Linked DNA regions of Homo sapiens: region 2 is reported to be linked to region 1. Evidence: microRNA targets listed by miRTarBase, many of them from high-throughput screens and not tested one by one. Region 1 holds a microRNA gene; the other region holds the end of a gene's coding sequence.

Region 1 (4,496 bases):
GGAGCGGTGGTTGGGGGGAGGTGTCCAAGAGTCAAGAAGGGGGCGGAGGGACACCCCATGGCCTCATTTCCACCTCCCCATTCTTCCCCACCCCTTCTCATTGCTTGGCACAATGCACAAGTTTACCCCCCGAACTGGATCCTATTAAATAATTCAATGGTAGCGGTGTAATTTTGGTTGGAACCAGCACGGATTCCCAAGTCGTGACTGCAAAAAGTGAGTAATGCGCGCTGGCTGCGTCATGGCTCTAGTCACAGTTCATTCCGAACTGAGAAGGAATCGTGACTTCGCCTGGAGACGTCCCCTACATGGGAGATGGGGGGCGGGGGGGCACCAAATCAGTGGGGACGGGGGTGGGGGGGAAGACCTATCCAATGAAAACCGCTGCCAGGGGGGCATTTGAACTCCGTCGCTTGCTGTCTCGCTGTCCCCTCTCTGCCCCGCGCACCTCGCTCCCCCTCCCGGCCGGCGCTCGCAGTGGCGCGCCTGCTCGCTCTCCCGCTAAGCGACGAGTCTTCAACAAGTTGGAGGAAGGCAGGAACGCAGGGGTTAAGCTCGGAAAGCCGCAATTACCAAGATCGTGACCCTCCCACACAGTACAGTAACTTATATACTTACCTGGAAGAACCCGCTTTGCCGCCGGGCAAACACCCGTGGGGGGCGGGGAGGGGCCGGAGGGAGCGGGCCGGCAGGAGAGGGGCTGCTTCCAGCTGGCTGCAGTGCGGACGGGACCGGCGCGCTCCCGTGGCCCCCAGACCGAGGTAAGGAGCAGGGAGTCGGCGCCCGGGTCGGCTGGTGGTCGGTCGGCTCACTGGTAGTCGGTCGGCTCACGGGTAGTCTGAGCAGAACTTTTTTTTCCCAGTTGCCCCGCGCCGCGGCGGCGGCGGGCGCAGACCGCGGAGCCCCTCTGGCGCGGCGGGCGCGCAGACGCTCGGAGGGTGTGTGCTTGCGTCTGTCAGTCCCGGAGCCGAGGGGATGCCGTGGGAGGGTGAGTGGGTCGCGGAGCTGCAGGAGGGTGATGGATGGGCGAAGGGGGTGGGTCGACAGGGACTTGAAGACAGTGCCTCCACCGTCGAGAGACGTTTTCTCCGGGCGTGCTGGGCGAGGGTGGGAGTGTGTGTGCGCGCGCGCGCGCCCGCCCGCACGTCGATTCCAGGGTGCCAAAGAACAAATATGGCAACTTTCCCCCCAAGTTCTTGCAATGTTTGCAGTAACCCATCCTGGGTGAGGTTTCCCCCACTGGGGGACTATACTGCTAGGGAGGGAGATAGTCAGGACGTCCCTTAGCCCACACCCTGCTTAGGTACTAATGGGGGGGGGGAGGGGCAGGAGAGGATGTGGGAAGGGTGGCGCTGCACTGCGAAGAAGGGCAACCCCTCAAAGTTTGGATGGATGGGATGGAGGAGGGGGCCGAGCGGGATGGAGGAAGAGGGAGGGAGGAAGAGGGAGGGAGGGAGAGTGAGGGAAGGAGATCTCCTTTCTCCCCATCTCTAGTCTTCCCTCCCCTCCTTTCTTCCTCCCGCAGAAGGTGGAATCTCCCGTCGTTGTGGGGTCAGGCAGTCAATGACGGGTTCGCCCCTTGTTGTTCCCCCTAGCATTCTGCAGAATGGGTAGAGAGTTGGGGGCGGGGGGGTGGGCTGCAGAGTTGAAAGTGCACCTGAGGCGAATGGGCCATTAAACACCCAATACTGAGACGGTTTCGGGGAGGATGCGGAGGGAGGAGCTTCACCTAGTTGAGCATTCAGAACTTTGGGTGGGAAAGGGGGTGTTGAGACATTCTCAATTTTCTAGAAATAGGATGACTAGTGTGGAGTTTGGGTTTATTTTATGTTCATCTTTGTCATTTTTCGTCTGGATCTTCTGGCTTGGGTCCCGTTGGGAGAGGTCGCTCTCTTAAACCTCTCTTTCCCAATACATCGCGCTACCCCCTCACTTGGGCTGGAATGAGGAGGGGGTCCTGAACCGCTTTTTTTGGCAACAACAATATTTTAACATGTTCCAGTCTAGGTTTTGTTGAATAATTAGAAATGGAAATATTTTTTTCTCCCTCCCCCTTCTGAAAAAAAAGGGGGAAATGTGAGCTCTCTTCTGATTGGTGGGTGACGATTTTAGTCCGCACCAATGAGCTGGCGGCCTCGTCTGTATTTATTTAGTGCTCTGGGGGAGTTTTTCTCTTTACGCAGCGCCTGTAGTCACGGCTGGAACCTTGGCTGGGGGACTCTGAGGGATAAGAGGGGATTCGGGGGGAATCCGAACTGTACCTGTTCAGAGATCCGCGACCTTGCAGCCGGGGCTGGCGGAACTCTGATAGGGAGATAGAGGGATAGGACAGGCAGGCGGGGAGGCTCCGGGTGCTGGGGCGACAGGAAAGGGGTGGAGGCTGGGCTCCGGGATCCGGGTGCCCCTCTGCGGTCCCCTTCTCGCCCTCCACACACTTCTCTCGGGGCTGAGTTGGGGGATCGCGGACGGTCTGGAGAAATGGAGACACGAGTCCAGGGGCGCGGAGGGGCGGGCAGCGCGCGGAGTGGTGAGACTGAGCCGCGATGGAACGCGCTGGGGAGACCCAGCCTGTTCGGCTCCAGGGTTCGGAGACATCCTGGGCTGAAGGCGGCGGCGAACCGAAGAAGCCGGCATATTCTGCCCTTCGCGAATCTTTTTGCGGTCTGGGCTTGCTGTACATAACTCAATAGCCGGAAGCCCTTACCCCAAAAAGCATTTGCGGAGGGCGCACTCGTCGAGAAGACGGCAGCCATCCAGCGATCGCCGAAGCCCGCACCTTCCCGAAGCTGCTCCATCCGAGCCTTACCCGGCCCTTTCCCCGTTTTCCACGGAAGATTCGGCCCTTTCCCCCGTCCTTTCCGCGGTGCCCGAGGCTTTGGTCACCTGTCTTCCCTCCGAGCGAGTCCCCCGCCCCCAACTTTTTAACAGACTTTGTATCACAGGGGGAACTGGAGCAGGTGGGGTGTGTGTGTTTTCGGAGAAGTGAGAAGAAGCTAAAATGCAATAAAAGTTTACAGAAGTTGTGTCTTCCCCCCAACCCCCGCCCACACCACGAATAACCCCATTCACTCAATGCAAAGAAAAGGATCTGAGCTTAAGGCCAAGTCAGAACCTGGAATATGAATCAGTTTAGGACATTTTGTGGTCATTTTTGACCGTAATGATCCGATTCTGCAATATGGGGGTGGGGAAGCCCTTGAGGGAGGGGCTGGAGGCCCTTAGTATCTTATGTCCTGGTGCGGGGGACCCGGAGGTGAGGCGAGCCGCGGTGAATTGGGTAGATCCGAAAAAGAGGGAAAACACCCAGGCACCGCCCGATCCCCGGAGTCTCTTCCTCCCGCGCCTGCTTCCAACCTAATTTGGGGCGTTTTGCAGCCTCGGGTCTCCCACATCTCCTCTTTTTCAAAACTAAGTAGCACGGAAGGGGGTAAAACAGGCGAGAACTGGGGAAGCCCCCGCAGAGAAGGAGCTTTGGAGAGATGCGGTTGTGCCCGACTCAGACGCTTAGCAGGAACAGAAGCAGCAGCAGCAGCAGCAGCCCCATCCCGGCCTCTCCAGGCGCCGGTCCTGGGGAGGGGGGCAAAGCTGCAGGAGAGGGGAGAGTCTGTGAGTCCCCCTCCTCCCCCTCCACTCATTGCAGTCCTGACCACTTCGGTCACAAGTGGCACAAATCAGGCCTTCACCACGCTCCCCGCGCCCTTCGCCTGCTAGGAACACTGCTAGACGCCCTTGCCCTTAGGGACTGGGCCAGAAGGACACACATACACACATGAGTGCCCACAGGGACAGAAATGGGTAGAAGATGGGTCTAGAGACACCGGAGTTCAAGACCCGAGGGCTGCGAACCTTCACGTTTTCGGGGAGGGCCTGAATTTCCCCCGTATCACAACCACCGTTCTTCCAACAAACTAAACGCCCACCGTCATTAACCTGTCCGCTGGTTGAACACCCGGACTCTACCCTCTCCAGAATTAGGAAAGGGCTGCAGAGTCCGAGGGTGCTGGACAGAGTCAATCTTTTATGGCTAAGACTGTGAGAAGGCACGGAAGGCGAGCACTCCAAGCTCTAAGGCTAAATCAGAGCTTTCCTCCCCAGATAAAGGAAATTTTCCCTCCCTGAATACGTTTTCTAAAAGAGTAAAAAGGTTCCTAAGATCTGCAAAGGAGATGGAGCAAAAAGCAAAAGCTCCGGGGATTTTCCTCCCTGCCTCTCACCTGGGGCCGTCTGTGGAGCGATAGCTTTGCGGAGGGAGAGGCATAAGAACCACGTTAGATTAATAATAGCTTCACCCTGTGTCCCTTCAGCTCCTCTTTTGTCTTTTGCTTCTTACATACCCCTCCTCTTCCCAGCCAGAAAGCCCTCCTCTCTCCCAAAGCCTGAACCTTCACCAGATTTGGGAGAGAGGTGGCCCAAGAGAAGTGAACTTGCACAGAAGAGGTTGAGCCACCGCAGCGCAGGCGGCTCAGGGTTATTGCGACCCTAGCCCCCTCACTTCT
Region 2 (4,000 bases), not on the chromosome of region 1:
TAGAAAACCATGTATTTCATCACTGTCTTTGCATAAACCTAAGTAGCTGATATAACATTGTTAGGTTTTAGATCTAAGTTTTATGGCAAAGTAACCCTTAAGTTACTAAAATTTGTGTATGTGTTCATGGAGCAGACATATATTGAGTGTTTCTTATATACCAAGCCCTCGTGCTGGATGTTTAGCATCCAGGGATGGATAAGACAGCTGTGCCTTCAAGGAGCAAGAGGCCCTGGCGCAGAGACCACTGCAGCGCCTCGTTAGCTTCACAGGCAGGCTCGTGCTGTCTGCACACTCAGCAGTGACAGCAGGGTGTGGCCAGGGCGACACAACCTTCAGGGGATTCTGGAAGCTCATACTCCTCCAGGAAAGAGGGGGCTCTAGGCAAACATGAAGGCCTGAGCCCCCAGCTCATCTGAGGAAAAGCAGGTGGTCTGGAAGCGCCGCTAGGGCAGAGGTGGGGAGCATGTGTAGACGCCTCCCGGCGGGAAGGGACCACCAGGGCCAGCTCGGGCCCCAGCGCTGCCGGTGTCATTCGGGGTTAAGGTCTGTCCAGCAGCAACGCGGGGCAGGGCTGGTGCCAAAAAGACCAGTTAAAGAATTGGAATTTGTGTCATGTTTAACTTGTTGGAGTTGTGAATAAAGAACACTGTGAGGTCGTAATGGGAGTGATATCTCAACGTTGTTTTGTTTTGCTTTCTTGTCAGATTGCAGAAAAGCTGAGGCAGGCCCTCAGCCGCTTTCCAGTGATGTAGGACAGAACGGGCCTTGAAGAGAATGCCGCGTGCTTTCTCCTGACTTGGGGCAATGCAATTCAAAACTTTTTTTCCCCTATTATTCAGAAAAAAAAGGAAACAAAACCAAAAAGAAAGAGTTGCAAAAAACTGCATTTATTTTATTAGCCACCCTAAATGCGTCAGTTATTTAGGGATGGTCTTTTGTTCATTTCCGCATCCATTATTTAAACCAGTGGAAATTGTCTCTATTTTTGGAAAGTACTTAAAAGTTACCAGAATTTTCAATGGAAAATGAGGGGTTTCTCCCCACTGATATTTTACATAGAGTCATAATTTATATGTCTTATAAATTATAAGTCTTATATAATTTATAAGTCTCCCACAATCTTCCAGTTCTTACCCAGTGTCAGATAATTAATTACTAATTACTTTCTTAAAAACATGAACTATGCCAGAATAAAAAATATCTATGTTTGTATATTTTTATAACTCCTTTCAGTCCTCTGGGGCTCCTGTCATTGAGGGAAGTCGTTACGCCTTTCACTGCCACAGTTACAGCTCAAGTGCTTACACTTCAAGAGGGAGGACGCTGGGGGCCCCTGGGGCTGCTAGTGCCATCGTGGTGTGTGGCAGGTGGGCCATCCCATGTCCCTCCAGGGGGACCCCACAGCCTGGCAGATGAGCAGATACCCCTGGCCACCCATGTCCTCAGCGACATTTCTGATGTGCTGCTCTTATGTGAGGACCAGTGCTTTCTCTCTTTGCACTTCCTTCCTAATCTTGGTTAAGGCATGTTTTATGCCATGAAGAATACATTAGAAGAATTGAGGGACTTTGTAGAGAATTTTGTGGCTTTGGTCCAACGGGTGAGTGGCTGTGCGGAGGCCTGTGTTCGGGAGGGCCTGGGAGAAGGAGGGCACCCAGCACCCCGGCGTCTCTGGCCCTTTCTTATTCTTTGGCTCCTCATCCACCGTGATGAGAAGCGCTGCTGTGGCCACGGCACACTGCTTGGCTTGGGTGGCGGGTTCATGGCCAGTTGGTGTCATCAGCAAAGAGAAAAAGCACAGGTTAGCTCCCCATTAGATGGAAAAGTGTAGGGACTGAGAAGGGCTGCAGCCTCAGCAGTGTACAGAGTCCCCGGCGCTCTGAGGTTGGAGAGAAAGAACAGACCAGCGCCCTTCCCGACTACATCCGAAACTTCACACAGGGTGTTTCTGAGCACCAGCACTTCCAGCGCTTCACTTAACGGCATAAAGCAAAACAGGACCTTGGCACACCGTCAGCTCGAACTCAACACTGGCAGCCACCGTCTCACCCCTGCGGAGGAGCGCTCCCGTCTCCCACAGGTGCCTTACCGCGTTCCCTCCCGCTGCTTTCATTTTTCTGACCTAATAATTACGGGAAATGGAAAGTCTGGGCCAGCATCAATAAAATGACACCAAAAATAAGTAGATGAAATCAAATGAATATGAGAACATCTTGTTCTTCAATATCACGGGTTTTTGTTAATGTTTCATAAGTAATTCTCCCCACTTGATTTTTCTTCTATAAAATCCCATAGAACAATGTTTATGCTATAGCCATTTAATATATGTACAAATTGTAAAGAATATGTATAAATGTTTTACACGAATGTAAGAGCATGTAGAAGCCAACATATAAATAAATTGTTTAAAAAAACTGTACAGTAAATTCTCAAAGCACTTTTTCAAAACACTTTTTGGACTTTGTGTGTGATTTTTGTTGTTGTTGTTAAGTACTTTTTATTCCAGCTGCTGAAAATGGTCCAGGTAATGAATTCTTCCCCAAATCCTATTTCTTCTGACATGAATTCATCATTTCAGTTCCGTAGGTCAGTGTTGCGGTCCGGGAAGCGTATCATAACCACCTGGGAGTTGCCAAGAAGCAGACAGTCTCCCAGTGTCTGACTCTCGGATATTTGGATTTGACTGGTGTGAGGCAAAGTGAAAAAGGGATGGGGGAAATGGAGATGGCACGGGCTCCTCAGAGCGTGGTAGCCGACTGTGAGGAAAAGCAGAGGGAATGTGAAAGAAAATAAGAGAATCCACGGGATTTGATGCCTGGAAGATTCTCCTTCAAGTGGCAACATGGCATATATATCCTTCTCCGGGGAGTCACATGCACCATTTGGTTCTTAGATACGTTGATGTTTTGATTTTTAATGATTTGTATCAACCTGTAGGTACCACAGAAGAGCTGTAGTCATACAATCACATAACTTTTACAAATATAGTGGAAAAAAAGTCAGTATTTGGAGAGGAGAGATGAAGGCGTGGTGGAAGAAAAGGTCAGTCTCGTTGTCAAGCAAGTGACGTCAGTTGCCTCCCACCAGGAGCAGCAGTCCCGGGATGTCAACCCACTGCATGGTTTGTAGGTGTTGGGGTCACCAAGAAAGATGACTCACAGAGGCACTGGGTGGAACAACGTAACTTGATTCATTTTCTTATTGGTGACTTTATTCACTTTCTTTCTTTTGTGGTAGCTTTATTCATTTTCTTATTCTGTCATTTTAAAAATGTTTTCTTACAAAAGTACCTGCTGGGTCTGGGGTTTGATGTTGCCCTACTTACAAGCAAGTAATTTAGTCTGTTGCTGTTCCATGGATACTGGAAGGGGCCATGAGACTCGTGGGTCTACTCACATAGAGAAGAGACAGCATGATCTACTTCTGTCATGGGCTTCAGTCCCAGGGAGATGGTCTGTGGGCACCCCCCATCCCCCCGCCCCCGGTGGGCAGCGTTGACAGGCTGTGCATGGCAGCCTCTCCCGGCACCACTGGTCTACATCTTCACTAAATCCATAGATCCCTGCCTAACAACTGGGAATCCAGAATCTCACAGTCTTGTTTATTTATTTATGAGATAATCTCACTCTGTGGCCCAGGCTGGAGTGCAGTGGCATGATGTCAGCTCACTGCAACCTCTGCCTCCTGGTTTAAGGGATTCTCCTGCCTCAGCCTCCCATGGCGCACACCACCATGCGTGGCTAATTTTTTTTGTATCTTTAGTTGAGACGGGGTTTCACCATGTTGGCCAGGCTGGTCTTGAACTCCTGACCTCAGGTGATCTGCCCACCTCAGCTTCCAAAAGTGCTGGGATTACAGACATGAGCCACCACACCCAACCTCACAGTCTATAAAGTAGTCAAAGTAAAAAAGGTGTGATGGCTGAGCAGAACTGAACAGTGATGGGTGAGAATGGCCCTGTTTTTCCTGTGTGTGTGTAACTCAATTTTCCCAACCT

What was found. The annotated mature microRNA hsa-miR-129-2-3p reads AAGCCCUUACCCCAAAAAGCAU and lies in region 1 at 2,695-2,716, shown strand. An mRNA with a match to its seed (bases 2 to 7 or 8) in the 3' UTR can be bound and repressed. Matches are read on the target gene's strand: a 7mer-m8 pairs with bases 2 to 8, a 7mer-A1 pairs with bases 2 to 7 and ends in A, and an 8mer does both.
Region 2: miRTarBase lists SNX9 as a target of hsa-miR-129-2-3p. Seed matches in the 3' UTR shown: 7mer-m8 at 1,843-1,849.

What each region holds. Positions count from the first base shown.
Region 1 is chr11:43,578,756-43,583,251 of GRCh38, forward strand. It overlaps MIR129-2 (microRNA 129-2), which reads left to right and starts at 2,639; the gene lies at 2,639-2,728. It overlaps LOC124902807 (potassium/sodium hyperpolarization-activated cyclic nucleotide-gated channel 4-like), which reads right to left and starts at 2,680. Exons shown (of 3, transcript XM_047428006.1): 1 at 2,262-2,680; 2 at 619-1,255. The coding sequence starts at 2,680. It also overlaps a transcript of HSD17B12 not described here. RefSeq lists silencers at 454-503, 604-863 and an enhancer at 1,924-2,723.
Region 2 is chr6:157,942,084-157,946,083 of GRCh38, forward strand. SNX9 (sorting nexin 9) reads left to right here. Exons shown (of 18, transcript NM_016224.5): 18 at 708-2,994. The coding sequence ends at 755. Among named protein-coding and RNA genes, the nearest start is that of SYNJ2, 38 kb to the right of the region's middle.